Regions from separate parts of the Homo sapiens genome. Here all the other regions are linked to region 2. The links come from fine-mapping of genetic effects on gene expression. A gene starts in region 2. Each other region holds a variant in brackets. All regions are shown on one strand. Distances are between the middles of the regions.

Region 1 (8,186 bases), 80 kb before region 2:
ACTCAGTTTGCAGGAAATGTAATTATGGAAATCTCCCTCTGGAAAAAAAAACTTCTTTTTCTTTTACCATGAATAGGAACAACCTGCCACACTTTCAGCTGCCCATGGCATTTATGGGCACAAGTCATGTTCCAGCACATCCCTGGACCCATGGGCTTCTCAGAGTGGTTACCTCGAAACAGCTAAGTAGCTTCCTTTCCAGTTTTAAACCCCTAGTGCATAGCCCAAGAGCACCCCAAAAATGCAGGTTAATGATGGAGATAACTTTATTTGCCAAATTTTGTAATTTGGAGCTTAAGAACCACTGTTTTTCCTCTTGAGTTCTGGCCTGTACCAAGTGCAGAAATAGCTTCCCAAAGGAAAAAAATGGGCAACAGTACCAAATGCTGCTGAGAGGTCAAGAAAGAAGAAGGCTGAGAACTGATTACTGAATTTGGCCACCTGGAGGTACTTGGGGACCCTGACAAGAGGTGGGTCAGTCATTTGATTGGACTGGGTTTCATGGGGACCAAGGAGGAAGGAACTAGATGCAGTTAATATATTCAGCTCTCTAGAAGAGTTTGCCTATAAAGGAGAGTAAGAAATAGGGTGGGACATATAGGACCAAGGGAGGGCCTTTTAAAGATGGAAGTTTTACAGTGTATTTGTATGCTGATGAGAATGATCCAGTAGAGAGGGCAAAATTGAATATGCAGGAAATAGGAGTGGGAATAATGGGACAAGTAGGCAAAAATGATGGGATCCATTAGACAAGTGGTGCTTTAGCTAGAAGCAGGGAGGCATCGATGGTAACAGGGGGAAAAGCAAGTACTTGGACATTGGAGGCAGAGGGTCTGAAGACTTGGTGGTGAAAGGATTCAGAAGTTCTGTCCTGATTAGTTCCATTTCCCTTGAGCGTCACTCTCCACTTTTAAGGGCAAAAAATAGGAGCACAGTAGTCCCTACTTCATGGAGTTGTTGGGAAGATTAATTGAGCAAATCCTGTGCTGGTAAGCACACAGCACAGAGCCAAGGCCACAGTAAGAGTGATCAATAAATGGCAGCTGACCTTGCATCCTTTTATTGTAATGTGTGACTCTTTCCCATCAGATTTCCCATTGTTCTGAGCTCCCCTCCCCTTCCAGAGGTACAGCTGAATGTTGACATCTACTGCCTAAGTTCACTTCCCTCTGCCTCTGCTACCACCCTGCTCCGTCCTTCCCCAGAGAAACCCCATAACACCTCTCCTGCTGCCTTCAACTATAGTCAGGAAGGGCTGTCTGAGCAGCAGAGATCATGAAGGGATGGAAGCAAACCTGGGAAGGAAACCCCCAGGTTTCCTTGCTTTGGGTGACTGACAGGGCCAAGCCACCTTTCTCTGTCAATTTCCTCATCTGTACAACTGTTAAATGCCATGATCTCCAATCCCCATCCAGCACCGAATTTCTGTGAGGAAGCCCAGTTATTCAACCTGCAAATAACCCCAGAAGACGGTTGACACCCAAAAAGAAAAAGACCCATCCAGAGTGTAGTGTCTGCGGGATCATCTCTGATGGAATACCTTTGGCGCCATCTGGTGGCAAATGCTTTGCGCAACCCCTCCTTTCAGGGAGGCAAAAGGCTGTCCTGAAACAGACTCCGATGAGCAGAAAACTCCCGCTAGCCAATGGCAGGAAACTAGTACCTCACCTAGAGAGGCCATCTAGTTCAGTGCATCTCAAACTGGAATGGCATACAAATCATCTGGAGATCTTTTTAAATACAAATTCTGACTCCGTAGAACTGAAATGAAAGAGAGTTTTATGGGCGGAGAGTAAGAAGTATGGAGTTACTTGGAGGGAGGCAGAGAAAATAGGGAGTGCCACATAATAAGTGGACTTTGGAGAAAATTAAGGACAAAGGGGATTTGGGGATTTCAGAAGAGGGTCATACAATGCAATTCTCCTCGCCCTTTCTTTAAGTGATTTAAATACTTATTTAAACTGCTTGTTGATACTTCCTTGGATGTCAGCTTGGTGTTTCTTTTGAATGCAGTACAGTGCTGAGCCTGACCATGATATAGTCCAGCTTCATTCAGGTTAGATAAAAAAGTAGATATGGGAAAAGGAGGCATGGTTAAGGATGCCTGGGGTAGCAAGGAATGTCTTGCTGATCATTTGGGCAGTCTTAAGGAATAATGAACTGCAAAATGGTCTTCTAGATAGGTAGAATAGCAGGGGAAATGTACCTAAGTATAAACATGCATGATATGTGTAGGGAACAATGAATAAAGCTACTGGTACATGGAGTACACGGGGAGGCACTGCAGAGGTAGGTTGATACTGATAACATACTTTTCTGTACATAAACTAACAAAAAGTATGTCATGAACAACTGTTTTATAAAAGCCATCACACTTGTAATCATTTAGTAATTTCTTTCCTTACAAACAGAAATGAGCTTGGTCTATTTTGTTACCATGGTATCCTCAGTACCTGAGCCTGGTTCATAATTGATGCTCAAAAAATAAATGAATGTAACAATTTCCAGTGATCTCTGACTACCCACTGTGTTCTACTGTTTTGTGCCCAAGTTTTAGTAAACTGGGAGTTCTCTGATGGCAGGGATCATGTTTGATTCATCTGTCTTCGACAGTGCCTAGCATGGTGCCTGTCACTTTGTAGGCCCTCAGAGGGTGCACACTGTGTACTTTGCAGACCATGGGAAGGATGTTAGGAAGTCCCAGTATCCTTAGCCCTGTCTCTGTGACACTGCCAACAGTTCAGCACTCCCTCTAGGCCACAGCTGTGTGAAGACAGGGGTGCCTGCACCCCATCTTCTGAGAAGTATGATCCTGCATAGAGTCCCGCCTTCTGATGTCCACAATGATGAATGTGCACTTATTGGCCACCAACTGTTTGCTGTACCCCCTATCTCAGCCACTGAGCCAAGTATAAATCTAGGAGAAGGCCCACCCTAGAGCTAGCTAAAAATAAGCCACCTGGAAAACTAGAAACAGAGAATATAGAAAATTCACTCATACTCCCACCCTGCAACCATTAGTATTTTGTAAGTTCCTTCTGGATTCTATGTGTGTGATAAATGTATACTATTTAATGTTCTCTTCCTTCCAGCCAACTCAATGGAACATAGGTTAGTGCTTAAGCACACAGGCCCTAGAGCTTGATTCCCTGGATTCACATCCTGGCTCTGTTATATGATCTTGTACAATTCAGCAAACCATACCTTATTTTCCCAATCTGTAAAATGAGGATGGCAATAATGAGGATTAAATGAATAACTGTCTTCATGTTAAGACATATAAAGTACTTGGAACAATATCTGATGTTAGTGACTAGCTTCACAGCATTTTCCATGTTGCTGCATAATATTCATGATGATCATTTTTAATAGCTATAAAACAGTCTACTGTGTCTACACTGGCTACTTTACTTAATCATTACTCCTTTGTTAGATGTGTAGGTTATTTCCAGGCATTCTGTATTATAAATAACACTGTCATAAACATCCTAGTATATACATTTTGGACTTTTCTATATAGAGATTCTCAAAAGTAGAAGTATAAGGTCAAAGGGCAAAAATATTTTATGCCTTTGCTCTAGATGGGGAAACAGTTCTCACTAAAGATTGTAGCACTTTAAAACACAAAGTATATTGGAACATTTTACTTTTCATTCCTTCCTCACCAGCCATAGATGACAACAATTTTTTAAATTATCCAAATGTAGTAAGCCATAAATAGTCCTACTTT[C/A]ATTTCCTTTTGCTTTGTTTTGTTTTGGTTTCACCATCGTGGAGTGTTGCTGATTGTGATTACTTTATTGTGAGCTCTCTGTATCAGAGTCTATACCACTTGCTTTAATAGAGAACACTTAATATTTTTTAAAATGTTAATTGTCTATTAAAGAATTCAAAAGCCAAAAAAGAAACACTAAGGATCTGCTACAACTTCTGAGGCTAAGGGAACAAAGGAAAGAGGAGGTGGCAGTTAGTGGCGTTGGTGTCACTGAGTGGCAGCTATGAGACTAGTTCTCTCAGTGACAGCCAAACTGCAAACCGGGTTCAACTTCTGCTTCAGGAACAAACTGCTGCCATGGAGTTGAAGAACTAAGGCTGTGGGGCTGCCAGATTTAGCAAAACCAAAATGCAGGACACTCAGTTAAATTTTGGTGTTAGAAACAAATAATTTTTAGTGTATTTATGCTCATATTGCATAGGACATACTTATACTTAAAAAAATCTTGTTGTTTATCTAAAATTCAAATTTTACAAAGTGTCCTACATTTTACCTTGCAATCCTAACAAGATGGATGATGCTGGGGTGGTGGGGGGGAAGCATATTATCCCCCTCATCTAGCCTTTGTCTCCCTCTAGCACCTACTATTGGCAGAGCCCAGCATAGAGCAAGTTGGCAAAGCTGAAAAGTGGTTTGCAGACAAAGCAGTGTAAAGAAGCTAATAAACAATTACCCAATAATTGGTACAGTCCATCCTTCTGGCTACCCAGCATCCATATACACTGTCTGGCACATGTGTACTTCCACACAACAAAAACAACTCTGGCCAGGTGTGGTGGCTAACGCCTGTAATCCCAGCACTTTCGGAGGTCAAGGCAGGCAGATCACCTGAGGTCAGGAGTTCGAGACCAGCCTGGCCAACACGCCAAAACGTTGTCTCTACTAAAAATACAAAAAATTAGCTGGGCATGGTGGTGGGTGCCTGTAATCCCAGCTACTCAGGAGGCTGAGCCAGGAGAATTGCCTGAATCCAGGAGGCAGAGGTTGCAGTGAGCCGAGATCACACCATTGCACTCCAGCCTGGGCGACCGAGTGAGATTCTGTCTGAAATTAAAAACAAAAACAAAAACAAAAACAAAACCTCTAACAAAATGCCTCACAACATTCAACTATTTTTCCAACAAATGAAGACATTCTCACCTTTTCTCCAACATGGGGATAGACAATGTCCCAACAGACATTTTAGTCATCTCTGGAAGACAGTCACTGTATCCACCTCTAAGCAGAATTAATAGCTCATAAAATTCAGTCACATTTGAAAACTCTGTTATCTAAAGACTAACATGTGGAATTAACCTCCAACAGAACTTATATAAAATAATAGGGAGGAGAAGGGAGAAGAAATTAGCCCATGTGTACCATTATATATAGTCACATTATGATCAAGGAAGAAAAATATGCCTGGCTGCTACATTCCTTGTTTCTGTAACCAGTCATGAAGTCAAAGATGATTTTTATAAATTTCTTCCTCAACCTTCCATTCCATGTTTTCTTGCCCTCAGACAGGACCTCAGGTGGCTGGGATTCTTTACCCAGTAGAGTGACCCAAACCTTCATTTCTGAAGGATCTGAATCCTCCATAGTCCTGAATATCCTTACTTGCAATATATTTATTAATATTTACTATTGAGCATAGAAATATGAAGATACGCCCCTAGAAGACTCCCCTAAGCTTCAGACATAGTCCTCCCTGTCCTCACTGTCCCTTTGATTATCAGGATGAATCACAACAGCCAGAAAAGTAATCCCCTTCTTTGCCCACTGATTTAGTGGCATGAAGAGCCCCAGCTGGCCAGGGAGCTGTTTCAACTCCAAATTCAATAGAACCATGTTGTAAATCCTAATGGAAGTATTTCCTTCTTGGCAACTAAGACCTCCAATCCAGTAGAGCACAAAATTAAAGAGACAGGAAGCAAAAATTCTGTACGTGGGTTATTAGGTGAAATGGTAAGAGGAGCCACTCCCATTTCCACCCCACGATTTCTAGACCCATACATTTTGGCTATGAGAGAAAAACACAATGTCTTGCTTGCTAAGTCATAATACATTGCATCCCATAAAACAGAAGCTCATTATCTCCATAAGGTGTTGCTTCTACTTAAGTCTTAGGTAATTCTTCAGTAGGCCATTCTACTGATCTACTAAGCCAGCTGCTCCTGAGTGGTTGAGTACATGTTAAGACCAGTGAATTTCATAGGCATGAGCATATTGCTGCCCATCTTTTACTGTGAATTAAAGTCCTTGATTAAAAGCCTTGCTGTCTGTAATATATCTGGATGGCAAATAGGTATTCCAAACATCCATAGATGATGGTGCTGGCAGAAGCATTACAGACGAGGAAAGAAATCCATATCCAGAATGTATATCTGCTCCAGTTAGGACAGATTTCTTTCCTGTCCATGATGGGAGTAATCCATTGCAATCATCTTGCCACCAGGTGGATGGTCCCCCCCAGGGAATGGTGCCCATAAGGAGCTCAGCATTGTTCTCTGTGTTTGACAGGTTAATCATTCAACAGTAACAGTATCAGGCCAGCTTGGTAAGAGGAAGCCCATGCATAGCCTCCATCCTTACCACCATGGCTGTTTTATGCATAAGTCCGTTAAGCAAACCCTGGGTGACTAAAGAAAGATGCTGTCTAACATACATAGGTCATGCCATTTTGTCCACCTGATTATTGAAAGACTGTTTTCATCATGTCCTTTGATAAACTCTCACATGGGGCACAAATATCCTCTTACTCTGTACCTATCCCAAGAGGTCCATCCACCTACCTTTTCCCCAGACCTCCTTATCACCAGTCTTGCTATTTTGTTCTTTCCAAGTCCCTGATCATCCAGCTAAACCATTAGCAACTGCTCATGAATCAATGTAGTGCTAACCATCCCCTGGACCAAAGTATACAACTAAATTTACCACTTGAAGTCATGTCCACTGTCCTTCACCATTACCTTTTATTGGGGCTGTGAAGCTGCCACCTTACACTTCTAGTTGGTGCCAACATTTATTCACAACAACTTGTAAACCAAGCCCAAGTTTTTTCTCCTTGGTCAGCTGCTCTTAAGGAATCCCCAGTGAGGCCTTAGATGTGGATTCAGGGAGAAGAAGTCATGTAGCAGTGGCTCAAATGAATCTGAGCCACCTACTTATACAACTTACTTGTCCCTTCCAGACATACTCAAGCCATTTGACGATGGTGTGCGACCAGACACAGCCAACCTTATGACTTGGTAGATAAGATGGGCAGCTCAGGCCATATGGTCATTTAATGCCTCATGGTCAGGTTGTGTTCTCATTTTTTTAAATGTTTTTATCCATTTAGCCCTTATATAATTCTATGAGGCTCATGCTTCTTTTTGTCTTCCATTATATTTATCCTTGTCATTTTCTTTATGAATGATGATGGTAGCAGCACCTGGCTATCTGATCCCATCTTATGGGGTCAAGTAACAAATCAGGAGCTGTTTCTCAACTTCAACAACAAAAAAGTTATCTGCAAAAGAGAGCATGGATTTGCACCAAAACTTGCATGCCTACAGGGCATAAGGGCTAAGAAAAGTTGCCTGTTCCTCCACAGTCCCAGATGTGGGGAACTCTGCCAAGGGTCTTCTCTTGGGAGCTGGCGGCCTGTGGCCAGAGGTTGATCTCAGGCCACTCTGTTTCAGGCACAGCCTCCGTTGCTGTGGCAGGGATCTTGGCTGCTCTGCGAATCACCAAGAACAAGCTTTCCAATCACGTGTTTGTTTTCCAAGGTGCAGGCGAGGTATGTGGCATTGAGGGTTTCTTTGGTTGCTCCAGGAAGAGAATAAGAATGGGTGGAAGCATACCAAAAAAGGGAGGCATTCTGGGGTTCTGAAAAGAGGAAGCAGCACAGACATATTGTGATCATTGCAGCTGCCTAGGCTCTGACAATTGGGTGTCTCAAGGCAAGGACTTAATTGGGCCTCCTGGGAGTCATTGAGGTGGGGGAAAGAAAAGGGGGTCCTTATGGCAAGACATCAGATAAATGTTCAGCAGCTGTTTGCCCTGTGTCTGAACATCTACCCTATGGTACCTTCCAGGCAGCTATGGGCATTGCCCACCTCCTTGTCATGGCCCTAGAGAAAGAAGGTGTACCGAAGGCAGAGGCCACAAGAAAGATCTGGATGGTGGACTCTAAAGGGCTCATTGTCAAGGTACTGTCAGTCTGGAGACCTGGAGGTTTCCTGACACCTTATAGCTCCCAGGAACTGGACTGGAAGAGGTCTCCAAGAAGTCAACTGCTCAAACAGAATAGAGAGCAAAATGAGGGCAATGGCCTAAGCTCCAAAGCAAAAGATTCATCCCAAAGTAGCCTTAATTGCTTCTGTCCAAAAGTTTGTACAAGTGTGTAGATGTGTGCCCCTTCTAGTCTTGTCCCCCACCACTTCCTGAC
Region 2 (8,186 bases):
AGTCTTTTAAACAAACATTGCTAGAACAACTGGACATCCACATGCAAAAAAAAAAAAAAAAAAAAAAGAACCTAGGCACAGACCTTACACCTTTCACAAAAATTAACTTAAAATGGATCATAGACCTAAATATGAAGTGCAAAACCACAGAACTCCTAGAAGATAACATAGGACAAAACTTAGATGATCTTGGGTATAGCAATGACTTTTTAGATAAAACACCAAAGGCATAATCCAAGCAAGAAATAATAAGATGGACTTCATTAAAATTTAAAACTTCTGCTCTGTGAAAAACAATGTCAAGAGAATGAGAAGACAAGCCACAGACTGGGAAAAAATATTTGCAAAAGACACTGTCATGCAAAATATACAAATAACTCTTAAAAACACAAAGAAAAGAAAAACTCAATTTAAAAATGAGCCAAAGCCCTTTATATATATCTCATCAAAAAATGACAAGCATATTAAAAGGTGCTCCCCATTATTTATCATCAGGAAAATGCAAAATAAAACAATGAGATACCAATACACCATCTATTAGAATGACCAAAATCTAAAATACTGACAACAACAAATGCTGACAATAACATGGAGTGACAAGAATTCTCATTCATCGCTCTTGGGAATGCAACATAGTACAGCCCCTTTGGAAGACAGTCTGGCAGTTTCTCACAAAACTAAACATCCTCTTACCATACAATCTAGCGATTATGTCCCTGGGTATTTACCCAAGTGAATTGAAAACTTATATCCAGTTTTTTAAAACCTGCACACAGATATTTAAAACAGCTTTATTCATAATTGCCAAAACTTGGAAGCAACCAAGACATTTTTCAGTGGGTGGACAGATTAAAAAAAAAAAACCTGTGGTACATCTAGATAATGGAATATTATTCAGAACTAAAAAGAAATGAGCTATCAAGCCACAAAAAGACATGGAGGAATATTAAATGCATATTGCTAAGTGAAAGAAGCCAATCTGAAAAGGCTTAAACTATATGATTCCAACTATATTACATTCTGGAACTGGCAAAACTATGAAGACCGTGGAAAGATCAGTGGTTTCCAGATTTTGGGATTAGGGGTAGGGGTGAATAGGCAGAACAAAGGGGAGTGAAATACTCTATATGACTATAATGATAGATACATGTCATTTTACATTTGTCCAAACTCATAAAATGTACAACACCAAGAAAGAACTCTAATGTAAACTATGAAACTTGGGTGATTTTGATGTGTCAATGTAGGTTCAATTGTAACACATGTACCACTCCGGTGAGGGATGTTGACAATGGGAGAGTCTATCCAAGTGTAGGATTAGACAGTATGTGGGACATCTCTGTCTGATATGGTTAGGCTTTGTTTCCCCACCCAAATCTCATCTTGAATTGTAATCCCTAGGTGTTGAGGGAGAGGCCTGGTGGGAGGGGATTGGATCCTGGGAGCAGTTTCCCCCATGCTGTTCTCATGATGGTGAGGGATTTCTCACAAGATCTGAGAGTTTTATAAATGGCAGTTTCCCCTGGTCCCCCGGGCTTCTCTCTCTCTCTCTCTCCTGCCGTCATGTAAGACATGCCTGCTTCCCCTTCTGCCATGATTTTAAGTTTCCTGAGGGCTCCCCCAGCCATGAAGAACTGTGAGTCAATTAAACCTCTTTCCTTTATAATGACCCAGTCTGGGATAGTATCTTCATAGCAGTGTACAAATAAACTAATATATTGTCCCTCCTTCTTAATTTACTGTGAATCTACAACTACCCTAAAAAATCATCTTTAAAAAAAGTTCTTACTGTACCATTTACCTCCTCCCTGGTATCATTTACCTAAATTGTAAATTTGCATTGATTTGTGTGATTATTTGATTAATGTGCATCTTCCCCACTAAACAGTAAATTCCAAGATGTTTGTTCACCGTAAGTTAACTAGTGCTCAGCATATAGCAGGGTTTCAGAATTCCTTGAATGACTATACATAAATTTACAAATATAGCAAATGTTTTTAAATTCATTAAGCCATTATCTTCAATGCATCTTTCAGGATGATTTGAGAGGAAAAGATAGGAGTGATGCAGGGGAAGAGAAAGAAGCAGCCATTCCTATTTGTTTTCTGCGGTCATTTGGTTAAAGCCTAAGCAACATCTCTAAGTTACAATGGTTTGATAATAATGAGTTTGCATTCCTGCAGCACCTCTCTTCTCCTGTGGTTTGCAGACAGATCTCAGCCTCACTTTGGGGTGACTCTTCTACAAACGATGCTAAAAACAGATCTTGTCTTGCTACTAACCAAGCCTAATGAGTTTTCTCTGAGAAGGTGCCAGGTCCCCTTCCAAAGTACTTACCCTGTAGCTTTTTATGATCATCTCATTTTCTTAATACAACGGCATGATGTCAAAGGCAACAAAATCAACCGTCTTTGCATGAACTCTCAAAAGGAGCCATTTAGGGTCCCTGCATCTCTTTTCTCTAGGTAGGCAAAAGGGTTGTGATCCATCCCAGCGAGTGGTGTGGGAGTGGCTGTTTTTACCTAACCTTTATTGAGCACTTACTTTGTGCTAGTCCGTTTATTGAGCACTTACTTTGTGCTGTCTACGCATCCCCTGGTTTAATCAAAACCAGAAAAGGGTCTCTGGGCGTCCAACGTGGGCAGGATGTGATTACCAGCTGGTTGTCAAGGCAACTTAGCCACGGCAGGCCAGGCCTGAGCCAGGGAATTGGGAAGTGGGTCCCCCCGCCTCCCCTGCAAGCAGATGAAGATTCAATCCCCAGGGCCACCCCCTGCTACCCAACACGCTTACCCTCCTGGCTCAGCGAGGGCAGAGTGGGCAGCACCTGCCTGCCCAGGTCCTGCAGGGCACGGGCGATCGTATCCAACATCTCCAATTTCCAGGTGACTCCGTACTGAATGTTCGATGGGTCTCTTCTTTCTTATATGGAATGTGCACAAAAATAATTTTCCCACCCTCCAGCCCCTTCTCCACGGAGCTTTGGATGTGCCTTAAAAATAAGAGTGACGAAAATCTTGAACTTCTTGACTCTTTTTCTTCTTTCTTAAATAAACTTAAACATTGGTTCTCGCCGTCCCTCCCCACTGCTCTGGCTCTCGGGCAGCTCCCACAGCAAGAGCCGCAGGAACTGATGTCCGGCACCGAGTGAGAGTGTGCAGACCCGCGCCCTCCTGACCAACGAGAGACCCAATGAGGGGTGAGCTGCAGCCTCGAGGAAGGGAGGGGCACCAGGGAGAATAGGCCCGGCAGAGGGAAGGGCGCGTTGCTGGGACGCGAGAAAGGCTCGCTCGGTTGCTAAGGCGTCAAGGCTGGGATTCGACCTCACCCCCTTAGATGGGCGGCTTCCAGGTTGCCCAGGCGATTCAGAAGCTCGAGGCAGCGAGGTTGGAAGTAACTTAAAAATAAATAAATAATGGGTTTTTACTTCTCTGACCCCGGGCAGCGAAGAAACGTGGTTAGAGTGGTAGTTTTTGTACCTTGGACAAATCTAGGAATGCCTTTTGCCCAGAGAGATCGATATTTGAGTCTCCAGATCTGTTTGAGAGTTTGAGTTTGAGCTGGAATTTGTTTCTTGGTTTGCTTTTCCCTGGGCTCTCTTCCTAGGAAATGGAGAGCTGGAGAAGTGGGGAGGAGGGAATTGACTTTTTTTAAACTACAGTCATTTCCCCCTTTTCTCTACATGTCACCAATCTCATCCTGAAGAATTGCGTGCATGCTCTCCCCTCTGCTGGTAATTATCACAAGCTGAACATACCTATGCAAAACCCATCCAGGTCAAAAAATAGAATGCTAGCACATTGCACAGATCAGCACTTCATTACCCCTCCAGTCATTAGCCAACACATACTGCAGATTCATTTTGCCTGTTGAATCTTTGGAATCATATAGTATGTATCCTTTTCTGTCTGGCTCTATTCAAATTCACATTATGTTTATGAGGTTCATCCATAGTTTCTATGGTAATAATTTCTTCATTTACACTGTTGCATATTATTCCTTTTTATGAGTATGGCACAATTTATGCATTCCACTGTTGAAGGGCATTTGCGTTGTTTCCCTTTGAGGCTACTGGGAATAAGGCTGCTGCAAACAGTCTCACAGAACACTTTTGACAGATAGATGTACTCATTTCTGATGTGTATATAACTAGGAGTAGATTCATGGGTCATGAGAAATGCATATGATCAATTTTAATAGATAATGCCAGCTAATTTTTAGTGGCAATATCAGCATTATTGTTCCACATTAAGATAATGGAATTATAAAAATAATTGTTTTACAATACATTAGATTTTGAATTAAATATAGTGGTACTTTTAATCTCTAGAAAAGCTGTCTTCAGTTCCAGAAGATGGTGGTGGATGCTAATTATTAGTGAATTGTAGATGGCTAAAGGAAGCTGTAAAAAGAATAAGGACAAAGACTTTTCTTCCAAGGTTTTACTTTCCTTTTGTCAAAGGTCTCTTGACAAAAGAGGCTGTGTAGATACATGTAACCCTGTGTTGACTAGAAACTTTTAATGAGCTATAAATATTATATATCCTGAAAATACATACTTTTCAGTTGCTATTAAAACTCAGGCAAACTATGTACTTCCACTGCTACAAATTTGGATATATTTGGATATAAAATTGGATGTATTAGCATGATACATACAAAGATATATGTATATGCAACATTGTTTATAATGTTAATTCTTAGAATTAGCCTAAGATGACCATCATAGGGAACTGGTTAAATTGTGAATACATACATTGGAATACATTTCAAGAGTTTACTTAAAAGGAAACTGCACATTTACGTGCTGATGTTGAAAAAGTTTCAAAATATAGTAAGTGAAAACCAGTAGCAGCATAGTATTTTTATATAATGTAATCCTGTTTCCTTCAAATATAAGTATATAAGTATGCATACGTATTCATATATATTTTTGTAAACATATGGGATATTTGAGGAAAGATACATACACAAAAATATTAACAGTGGAATTTTGGATCAGGCAAAATTTTGTATGGTGGAGGAGGCATTCCAAGAACTTTTATATTCACTTTTCTCCTTTATTTACTGTTTAACAAGGGCATGAATTACTTTATAATATTTAAGATAATTTACCAAAGAGAGGAAGAGAGAGAGGTACAGGTAGAGTGTAGGGATTTATGCAAACACTGAAGGAAACAAACAGGGCCAAAATGTTCCCAAGTATTTCAATGTACATTTACTTTTCTGCAAGCTCCAACTTGCCTTGCAAAACCCACATTGAATGGGCAGTCATTTTTACCCAAGCCCCAAGGCACACACAATATTAAGTGGCTTATATTAAAGGCAACTTGGAAAAAAAAACTATTGAAAAAGAAAACATAATACTCATTATACAACACCAGAATAGAAATTTGCAATAAATAATTTAACCACATCTATTGAGTACCTAATTTGTGCCAAGCACTTTGCTAGTTGCTAAAAGGAATACAGACACTTAACCAGAAAACCCCTACAGATAAGAAGTTCACAATTCATTTTTCACCATTTTAACAAATATTTATTGCAGGAGGTTCTAAAATCAGGATTGGGTTTCAAAGTTAAAGTGTAAATTGAAAATTGGATGTGGGAAAACTACTCCAGGAATCCCTTCTTAGGAAGGGACCATATCAGAGACCCACATATGCCATCTCTCAGTTTATAGACCCAATGCAGTCTTTCTCTCCTCACACTGGAGCAGATCACTTTCTTCAGGAGAGATGTAATGAAACAGTTGGCTAGAGTTTAGGAAAGCAGTCTTATTCTAAAAATTCAACCAAATAGAATTGTATGTACTCAACACTGTGCCATGCTTACACTATGATACACACTCATGAACTGAGACAGATTGAAAATATAGCAGATGTATATCTTCTGTCCCTTGCTTACTCAAGGATTTATGCAGAAACAGACTTGCGGTAGCTTCATAGACTGTGAACTTAGCCAAGATAGAACTACATTTTCCAGAATTCCCTTTCCTATATGATTCTAGGTTAGGGTTAGTCAAAAGAGAATGTGTGTGAGATTTGGAAGGCAGAAGTAAAGCAGCAGCCATGTGATCTGAAGCCCTAAAGGTCATTGTAGGGCCAGGCACTGACCTGCTGGCTCACCGTGTAGGCATGGGCCAGCAGCCTGGCCTGCAGCTTTGCAGCTCCTGCCAGATCTCCTCATTCTGCTTCTCTCAATCTTAGACCAGGTACATGTGCAGCAGTGTTGCCAAAGGTACTACCTAATCCTATAAGTCCCTCACATCACTGAGGTTGGACGCAAGGAAATACAGATGCAGGTTGCAATTTGTCCTCACAGGATCTAGTTTGCCTGTGTGTAACCGCCCAATGGGTTCATCTTGCCTACTGCCCAAATGAAGCTGATTTATCAAGATGGGGGAATTGCAATAGAGAAAGAGTTTAATACAGGCAGAGCTGGCTAAATGGAAGACTGGAGTCTTATTATTACTCAGATCAGCCTCCTTGAAAATTCAGAGGCTAGGGTTTTTTAGTTTGGTGGAAAAGGAGCTAGGGAATGGGGAATGCCGATTGGTTGGGTCAAGTGATGAAATCATAGGAAGTTGAAGCTGTCGTTTTGTGCTGAGTCAGTTCCTGGTGGAGGCCACAAGACCAGATGAGCCAGTTTTTCTGTCTGGAATGTGCCAGCTAACCCATCAGAATGCTGGGTCAGAAAAATCGGCTCAAACACCAATCTTAGGTTTTACAATAGTAATGTTATCTATAGAGGCAATTGGGGAAGTTAGCAATCTTGTGGCCTCTGGCTGCATGACTCCTAGGCCATGGTTTCTGAGCTTGTGGCTAATTTGTTGGTTTTACAAAGAACAATCTTGTCCCCATGCAAGAAGGGAGTTTGTTTCAGGGAGGGGCTGTTATCATCTTTGTTTCAAAGTTAAACTATAAATTCCTCCCAAAGTTAGTTCAGCCTATGCCCGGGAACGAACAAGGGCAGCTTGGAGGTTAGAAGCAAGATGGAGTTGGTTAGGACAGATTTCTTTTACTGCCATAATTTTCCTATGTCAGATTTTTCTCAGTGTCATAATTTTTGCAAAGGCGGTTTCACTTGTAGGTTCCAGATTGTTCTCACCAGTTCCAATCTTTCCTTATTCTTCCCCATTTCATGACCATCTTTTCTTCCTATTAGCCTTGCTGTCTTTAGGCCCTACACCAGACACAGAGGCCAACACCAGACAGAGATGACTTAACCAGCTCTTACAACTATGTAAGGGCTAGTGCTCATAATAAATTTTATATTTTCTATCACTCTTACAGGTTCTGCTTCTCTGATTGAACCTGAATGATACAGAACTGGTAGATAAAACTAAAGTATTTCAATTTAAAGTATTCTCTTTAAGTTTTACTTAGACTTGAATTCACATAAATTATGTATTTGTGCACTGCAACTGTATTGTAAAGATTTATCTTAGTCTGTTTTGTGTTGTTGTAAAGGACTACCGGAGAGACTGAGTAATTTATAAAGAAAACATATTTATTTGGTTCACAGTTAAGAATGGCTGGAAGGTTCAAGATTGGGTATCTGCATCTGGTGGAGGCCTCAGGCTGCTTCCATTCATGGCAAAAGGCCAAGGCAAAGGGGAGCCAGCTGTGCAGAGATCACTTGGTGACAGAGGAAACAAAAGACGGGTAAGGGAGATGCCAGGCTCTTTTTAACAGCCAGCTCTGAGGAATTAATAGAGTGAGCACTCACTCCCTACCGAGGGAGGTCATATATCTCTATTCATGGGTTTCGCCCCCATGACCAAAACACCTCCCATTAAGCCTCATCTCCAATATTGGGCCAGGATCAAATTTCAGCATGAGGTTTGGAGGGGACATCAAACCGTAGCATATGTTAAATGTCATGTTTGAGGCATGAAGACAGTGTAATGGGAATTCAAGGGGAGGAAGATTATATCTCTGTTAGGCCATTCTTGCATGGCTATAAAGAAATACCTGAGACTGGGTAATTTATTTTAAAAAGAGGTTTAATTGGCTCATGTTTCTGCAGGCTGTACAAGCATGGTGCTGGCATCTGCCCAGCTTCTGGGGACGCCTCAGGGAGCTTTTACTCATAGTGGAAGGCAAAGCAAGAGTAGGCTTATCACATGGCGAAAGCAGGAGCAAGAGAGAGAGTGGGTGGGGGAAGGTGCCACACACTTAAAC
Region 3 (8,186 bases), 24 kb before region 2:
CTACAGGAAACAAACATTTTTGAGTCAACTTCTATAGGAAACCTTTACCAACCACTTCCAACAATTACTCTGTCCTTTTGCAGCCTCTGTACTTTTGTTGTCTTCGTCGCATGCATTTTTTTTTTAATTTCAGTCTTCCTGCAACACTGTAAGTTTTATAAAAGCAGGTTTATACATCTGTAACTCTGAATCTTCAGTGCCTAGAATATTACCTGGCACATGGTGGTGCTCAATATTTGTTGTATTGAATTAAATTCCCAAGTACTATACATCTAATTCTCAATTATCTTTCATAACAGTGATATTATCCAAAACAAGCATTCCTAGAGTTTTTAACATGACTTTAGTAATCCACAAAGTACATAAATTGCACATATGATAGCTGATAAATTTTGACACATTAATAAATTAAAGGTTGGCAGCACAATGCAAAGTACATAGTTAGGTGCTCAGTAAACAATGAATGAGCATGGTTGAGTATGGTTGACTGATTTGAGGTCTTAAAAAGTATCCTACTCAGAGAGAAGGATAAAATATTTTAGAAATCTTTTGACATACCATCACAAGAAGAAAACGACCATGATAAATTGTAATACACTCATTCATTCAAGTAATGTTTATTGAGAACTAATGGAGTGCTGGCTATGTTTGGCAAAACTACTTTCCAATTTGATGTAAATATAACATTGTGTCACATCATAATATCCAAGCACTCGGAAAACATGAAAGTTTTGTAGATTTGGGAAGCCCAAATCTACAGAAAAAGTTGGATGATCCCAACTCTGTGCTATTTTGTTTCCGCCTGTGTCATAACATCTATTCCACTGAATCGTAATTTATCCCTCTGCATATGTCTGGCTTTCCCACTAGATGGTGAACCTTGGTCACCTTTATTATTCCCATCATGTTGCATATAGAAAGCTCTAAAGAACACTGGATAAATGAATTAATGAACAATTACAGTTCCCCGCATCAAGCAACGACTCAAAAATATATTTAGTAAAGTACAACAGAAAAAAAAAAGTCAATGCATTACCTTTCAGGGGTCATAATCTTCCCACCACTCTCACTTCGTTCAAACTTTTCCAGCAAGCTGACATTTGTCACTTTGGCAGGGAACAAAGCTTGTCTATCTCGAAGTCTTTTGGGTGATGAGATATCTGTAGAATAAAGAATGAATGAAAACGAGTCTCCTTTCAACTCTCAAACCACTAACTGTGTAGTTTTTACCAAGGGAAATTTTCATATAAGATACACTCTCTTATCTTTAAATAATCACCCCTTGTTCTATTGTGGTATAAAAAAATGTTTTTGCTGTATATTCGCAAAGAAAGCACTGTGCTAAGCATTTAGAGGACAAAAAGAGGCAATAACATAAATGCAGGAAGTGGGCTGGATATAACATGACCAGGAGACGTGTTAGTTTAGTTAACATTTCTCATGAAAAATGAACAGTGGTAGTTTTACAACTTTGATATCTGTAGATTTAGACATTTTGCCTGTAAAGATCTTTCGATAGATATAGTTGAAGAGAAAAATAAGATACAAACAAAAAAGTGAGAGCTCCCATTTGGAGGTCATCTTATGTGCTAACAGTGCTAAGTGCTTTATAATATACATTTAATAAATAACAACTTAGGACAGTGATGCAAAATGTATAAGTCACAAATAAATGTTGCAGTCTTTTTCTTTTTTTTTTTTTTTTTTGAGATGGAGTCTGACTCTGTCGCCCAGGCTGGAGTGCAGTAACCCAATCTCAGCTCATTGCAACTTCTGCCTCCCAGGTTCTAGCAATTCTCCCACCTCAGCCTCCCAAGTAGCTGGAATAACAGGTGCACACCACTACTCCCAGCTAACTTTTTTTTTTTTGTAGTAGTAGTAGAGATGGGGTTTCGCCATGTCGGCCAGGCTGGCTTCGAACTCCTGACCTCAGGTGATCCACCCACCTCAGCCTCCCAAAGTGCTGGGATTACAGGCGTGAGCCACCATGCCCAGCCAAATGTTGTAGTCTTTAAGGATCTGATATGTTCAGAGGAGAGAAGCCACTTCAGAATTCAGTGATAAGTTTTCATGGAGAAAGTGAGATGTGAAAAGGGTACTAAAAGGTGAGTAGGATGGAGATAGATTGAAAGAAAAGGAAGGACAATTCAGGCTGCAGGAAAAAAAAAATGAACAAAAGGATGAAGTTGGGGAAGGGCAGGCATGTTAGAAGAGCATGAATAGGCCAAGCATAGTGGCTCACGCCTGTAATCCCAACACTTTGGGAGGCCGAGGTGGGCAGATCGTTTGAGCTCAGGAGTTCAAAACCAGCCTAGGCGACATGGCAAAACCCTGTTTCTACAAAAAGTACAAAAATTAGCCAGGCATGGTGGCGCACACCTGTGGTCCTAGCTACTCAGGAGGCTGAGGTGGGAGGATCACCTGAGCCCAAGAGGTTGAGGCTGCAGTGAGCCAAGACAGTGCACTCCACCCTGGGTGACAGAGCAAGACCCCACCTCAAAGAAAAAGAAGAACATGAATAGATAATTTTTCCCAAAAAAGGGGTCTCTATAGGGCACAGTGGGAGATGAGACTAGAGAAATAAAAGCATATGAATATTAGGCTAAAAGTTGATATGCAATCCTGTAGGCCACACGTAGAAAACAGACATGCACAAGCCAATGTTCACCCATTGGTATGTTTTGTTTGGCCTAATTAGCATTTTTTGTTTCAATATCAACAAAAGTCGTCAACTTTTAACAGCCAATAGATTTTACATTAAAGTCAGGATCTCTGCTTCTTTTGAAAAATCAGAAGATTGTGCTCACTTTAGTAGCACATATAGTAAAATTAGAAAAATTAGAAGATCTGATATCACTTGGGCCACATTTCCGCAAAGCAACAATCTGCTAGAGGAACAGTCCTCAAAGTGTGGCCTGGCAAGCCATACTTTTTGGGGTCCCTAGGACCCTTTCAAAATGTCTGTGGCTGCGTGTGGTGGCTCCCACCTGTAATTGTAGCACTCTGGGAGGCCAAGGCAGGCGGATCACCTGAAGTCAGGAGTTTGAGACCAGCCTGGCCAATACGGTGAAACCCCATCTCTACTAAAAATACAAAAATTAGCTGGGCGTGGTGGTGCGCGCCTGTAGTCCCAGCTACTTCCAGGGAGGCTGATGCAGGAGAATAGCTTGGACGCAGGAGAATCACCTGAACCCAGGAGGCGGAGGTTGCAGTGAGCCCAGATTGTGCCACTGAACTCCAGCCTGAGTGACAGAGCGAGACTCCATCTCAAAAAGAAAATAAAAAGTCTTTGGTTAAAAAAAAAAAAAATCTTTGGAGTCCTAGGATTTTCTTCATTTGCTTCCACCAAAACAACCTATCACAACAGATTAGATGCAGACATAGGTATGAGAATCCAGCTTTCTTCTACAGACATCAAAGTGATAAAACTGCCACTCTTTGTTTTTCATTAGAAATGTTAACTAAGCTAACATGTCTCCAACCCACTTACATCCAGACCACTTCCTGCATTTGCGTTACCTGCCTGCAGTCATCTGAGTTTTGGCCCCTTTGAGCAATGGGGAGCCAGCAAAGAGATGATGATCTAAGAGCCTGAGAGTCATAGGATCTAAGGCTCATAAAGTAAGTAAGCTCATAATTAAGGTCAAATGCAGGATTCTAGGAATAGAACGTATTTGTTAGAAATAATATAGTGATTATTTGTGGCTGGGTGCGGTGGTTCATGCCTGTAATCCCAGCACTTTGGATGGCCTAGGTGGGCGGATCACTTCAGGCCAGGAGTTTGAGACCAGCCTGGCCCATCTATACAAAAGATAAAGAAATTAACCAGGCATGGTGGCACATGATGGTAATCTCAGCTGCTCGGGAGGCTGAGGCAGGAGAGTCGCTTGAACCTGGGAGGTGGAAGTTGCAGTGAGCTGAGATTATGCCACTGCACTACAGCCTGGGCAACAGCGAGACTCCATCTCAAAAAAAAAAGTAATAATAATATAGTGATTATTTGTAAATTTAACTTTATTTACCTTGGGCTAAGCAATATGGCTGGGCTCATAGCAGTAAAGAGTGACAGATTGGACCCAGAAATCATTGGCCTACCTCTGGTGCCTTCTTCTTTGTCTGACTGGTCTTTTAACTTGCACTTCCTTTCTCTATTCTCTCCACATTCTTCTACAAGGGTCTCCATAGGCAGTTTGTTTTCCATCTCCTTGAGCTCAATCCTAGGAATGAGCCAATATGTTTTTCTGCTGCACTGAACCTGAACAGGTAACTGTGTGAACTCTCAAGTTTTGGAAGCAACCCAGCCAGCTGGCTGATTCTGAAATAAGCCCACTTTCTTCAAGGGGTGAGTGCTCTGATGTGCTAAGTACATATCATAGATTAATTTTCTCCAAGGCTTTCTGGAAGCTGACCAAGGCCTTTCCCTCTATACCATAGTCTCAAAGCAGCTTGCATATAGAGAAATTGCCTTAAAGTCCTTTATTTAGGTTATTGGTTTTTGTTTCAATTTGAATTTTTATATCCTACTTCTTTAACTAGATGCTATGGGGTGATACAGTGGAAAAAAGGTTGTTGGATAGCTTGAAGGCAAAGATTCATAGCCTGGTAGAGTATGCCCCAAAATAACCATTTGTCTCCTCCCTCCTTTGCCACTTCACTTCATCATTCTCTCCCCAGGCAAAAGTGAAGGACTTGCAAAGCTACAATTTGCAGCAGGGAGGAAGGGGGATGTTCAGTTGGTGTGTGTAGTTGTAGGATTTCTTTGGCCTCAGGTATGGAGTACTAGGTTGGAGTAGGGAGTGGGGGTGGGGGTACCTTCAGTCAATTCAGGGGCCAAATGTCACATAAATAAAACACCAACAATTGTTTTGAGTATTTAAGTCCCCATGTCCATTTCTAGGCCCTTGACTTGATGGCGACTCCATCTCTGTTCTTTGACCCACTATAATTATTTCCCTCCTGGAGTGCCTAAGCCAAAATATGTCAAAGGGAACAGCCATGTTTGCCTTCCGAAACCATCAAAATAAAATTCTTTTCAATCCACTGATTTATTTTTAGTGAGTAAGGCAATA[T/C]GGTGCAATGGAAAGAACACTGGACCAGGAGCCATGGTTTTATTTCTATAAGCTTGGCTGCTTATTAGTTGCATGGCCATTTCGTGTGCAAGATGAGGCGGTTGGAAAACAACCTCTAAGGCTTACTCTGGACTTCACACTGAATCTTCTGAGGTATGTGTCATACAGCTCTTCCAGGAGGGGGTTGTTCCAAAGCAACAAACAAGAGAATGTCACACTCAAAACATCTCAGAAATTCTCATACTTTTATACTTTACTCATACTTCCTAAAGTAATAATGCTTTAGGAAGCTAGTTGTTATTCCCCAAACTTCCTCCACCTGAAATGCACAGTGGTTAATGGCACAGCAATTAAGATTATTAACATAATTAAGGGCACACAATGAATAAGTGATGGCCAAACTGGAAATAAAACTAAAGTCTCCTGACTCCTACTCCAGTGTTCTCAATAGTGCACCATGTTGCTTCATTCATGTAAAAGAAAAAAATTAAAATTAATTTTGTATCATGATAAAATGGAGAATTATAATACATAAGTCACATGGTTGTCGTGAAGATTAAATACAGTAATATGCAACCACCAGTAACAACCACTGTGCTCATGGAGTAAAGCTGTTTCCTTATTCTAACTTATCTGTTTAACCCGTTTAGTGGTAAAAATCCGAGCAAGGACAGGAAATGGGCTGAACTGAAGGAAGAAGCAGCAGCTAGGGCAGAAGAAGTGGTACAAAGTAGTGGAAAGTTCAGCAGGTGAGAAGAGTTTTACTAATACTGCAGGGACTAAGGTTAATGGAAGGTAGTATCAGAATTTCCAGGAGCCAAGGGTAGTTTTAAAAAAGAGTAAATGGGCCAGGCCTGGTGGCTCACGCCTGTAATTTCAGCACTTTGGGAGGCCGAGGCGGATGGATCACTTGAGACCAGGAGTTCGAGACCAGCCTGGCCTATATGGTGAAACCTCATCTCTACTAAAAGTACAAAAATTAGCCAGGCATGGTGGCGTGCGCCTGTAATCTCAGCTACTCCAAAGGCTGAGGCAGGAGAGAATTGCTTGAACCCAGGAGACCGAGGTTGCAGTGAGCAGAGATCGTGCCACTGCACTCCAGCCTGGGTGACAGAGCAAGACTCCGTCGCGGTGAGGGGGGATAAAAAAGAATAAATGTCCATTGTTATTTAACTTAACTACAGAAAGTGTATGCAATAAACTCTTCTTTGTTGGTGGATTTAGAGAGGGAGAGACAGACAGAATACATTAAAAGGAACATGAGCTACAAAACATTGAGAAACACTGCCCAATGAGATCAGCAGATCAGCAAGGAGTGCTAGTGCCTAGAGGAACCCGTGAAGCAAAGCACTCACCTTGGAAACGCAAGCACACTGCTGGGCCACTTCCTCAAGGCCTCTCTGCTAGACAACACCGAGTCCACAGTGCCAGGCCTCTAGAGGACAGCAACAGAGCAAGGTTACATCTAGGCTGAGGTCCAGGACTCAGACAAATTAAAAACTGCAGGCTCATAGGCAAGGCTACCACGATACTTTTCTTGTTGTTGTTTATGTTAAGCGCTTATAAGTCCAGAGCTTAAAAATCCAATGAGGAATGATCTCATTCATCAGAGCAATCACCCTGGGTAGCTGCACAGCAATTCTTTCGGTGTTGCCTTTTCTCAAACCATTTCCTTTTAGGGAATTGCCTTCAGAGTTGACAGATTCTTTTAGATGTCTTTAAGAAGATAGCAGACTTTGTAAAAATATCTGGAAAGTGAGCAAGCTGTCTAATTCCACTCTTGACCCAAATAACTAAAATTAGGCAATTAAGAGAAAAGCTTTCGAGTCAGGTGGGCTCATGTTCAAATCCCCACACTGCTAACAGGCATGTGGCCTTAGGCACTAGGTTTCTGGGGATAATAAAAGGATCTAATAGCACTTCCATGAGGTCCTCTATGTAAGTAGCTAGCACATAGTAAATACTGAACAAATGACTATTTTAATTCTCATGTAACTGTAAACATAATAGTCACATTGTCACATTTTAACTGTAGAATAATATATAAAATTATTATTTTTGCATGAATGCTATCACTTACAAAAGCCTTTGAAGTGAATTCCCAAAAAGAAGTATAGAAAATATTTCTAATAAAAGCAGCATTACTGAAATAAGCACACAGCTTTCCAAGGGGACTACCCTACAAGACAGTTTTAAGTTACGGGTCATTTGGGAATAAACTCTCACTCACACCACTTCACAGCAGTTTTCCAAAATGTGTCTTACAGAGCTAATGAGATATTGGATTAACCTACAATTCCATGATTAAATACATTCAGGCAGTTAAACTGACTGCTTTCCAGCCAGACTTCTCAGCTCCTTTAACATGCTGATGTGCTCTGTCCCTCTGTCCATGAGGGTGACTGATTCGATCAGCAGTTTTCAGTCAGCTTTGACCTCCAAACCCTTTTTTCATAGAGTATTTTTCAGGACTAGTTCTTTTGGAAAACGTTCTGTAAAAGATGTGCTTTACAGTTCAGCAGGTCAAGGAAAATGCTGTCTTCTCTTTTAAACACGTATTGAAGCTACAAAGTTCAGCAGAATCCCTGAGGGTTAGAGATGAGCTAGCCACTTTGGCCTTGCTTATGGACTTGCAAATCTTGCCTTGTGTTTTCATGGAAAAGCAAGGGTTTTTCCTGCATGTGTTTCCCACTTTCCACACACAGGGTTGGCAATCCTCTTAGCAATCCTGTATGAAACCAGATTGTGTAGAAAACACCAGGAGTTTCATTATGCACAACTTCATTTCCTAAATCCCCATCCCAAAGCTTCATAAAAGGAGAAATGGGTAGACTGAGATGATATTAATAGCCTTTTCATTAAAAAAATCAGAGTTTGGCTTTATGGGATATAGGATTATATAACATTCCATAATAATTCAATTCATTCATGTCTACTTTGTTAGTTTCCAGAGGAGTACCTGAGGCACACTAAGTATTCAGTAAGTCTGGTAGATTGACTATTTCATTTGTTTAAACTCTGCTGTATCCAACTTAGCATGAAGGTCACACCAGCTACTTAATGGTTGACAATAATGATGCCAATTAGGAAATTTCTTCTACAACATGGCAAATTAAA

Direction of the effects. Alleles are on the strand shown, and positions count from the first base shown. SD is a standard deviation of normalised expression in the study named.
For the expression in monocytes after interferon gamma of the gene that starts at base 3,149 in region 2, C is the high allele of the variant in region 1 and A is the other (large effect, 1.0 SD a copy in Fairfax 2014).
For the expression in tibial artery of the gene that starts at base 3,149 in region 2, allele T in region 3 goes with a lower level than allele C (small effect, 0.28 SD a copy in GTEx).

The links. PIP is the estimated chance that this variant, and not a neighbour inherited with it, causes the effect.
Region 1: its variant is fine-mapped to the expression of CCDC81 in monocytes after interferon gamma (Fairfax 2014, PIP 0.95).
Region 3: its variant is fine-mapped to the expression of CCDC81 in tibial artery (GTEx, PIP above 0.99). The same link has a PIP of 0.9 or more in skeletal muscle.

The regions. Positions count from the first base shown.
Region 1 is chr11:86,449,650-86,457,835 of GRCh38, reverse strand. It overlaps ME3 (malic enzyme 3), which reads left to right. Exons shown (of 15, transcript NM_001161586.3): 9 at 7,438-7,535; 10 at 7,834-7,947. Among named protein-coding and RNA genes, the nearest start is that of CCDC81, 79 kb to the right of the region's middle. The variant C/A (reference allele first, on the strand shown) is at 3,731.
Region 2 is chr11:86,369,850-86,378,035 of GRCh38, reverse strand. CCDC81 (coiled-coil domain containing 81) reads right to left here and starts at 3,149. Exons shown (of 15, transcript NM_001156474.2): 1 at 2,794-3,149. The coding sequence starts at 2,872. All of the region lies in intron 2 of LOC105369421 (a long non-coding RNA gene), which reads left to right. RefSeq lists a silencer at 3,115-3,409.
Region 3 is chr11:86,393,652-86,401,837 of GRCh38, reverse strand. It overlaps CCDC81 (coiled-coil domain containing 81), which reads right to left. Exons shown (of 15, transcript NM_001156474.2): 5 at 6,425-6,504; 6 at 4,096-4,217; 7 at 1,037-1,160. LOC105369421 (a long non-coding RNA gene) reads left to right here and starts at 5,738. Exons shown (of 5, transcript XR_007062826.1): 1 at 5,738-5,818. The variant T/C (reference allele first, on the strand shown) is at 5,070.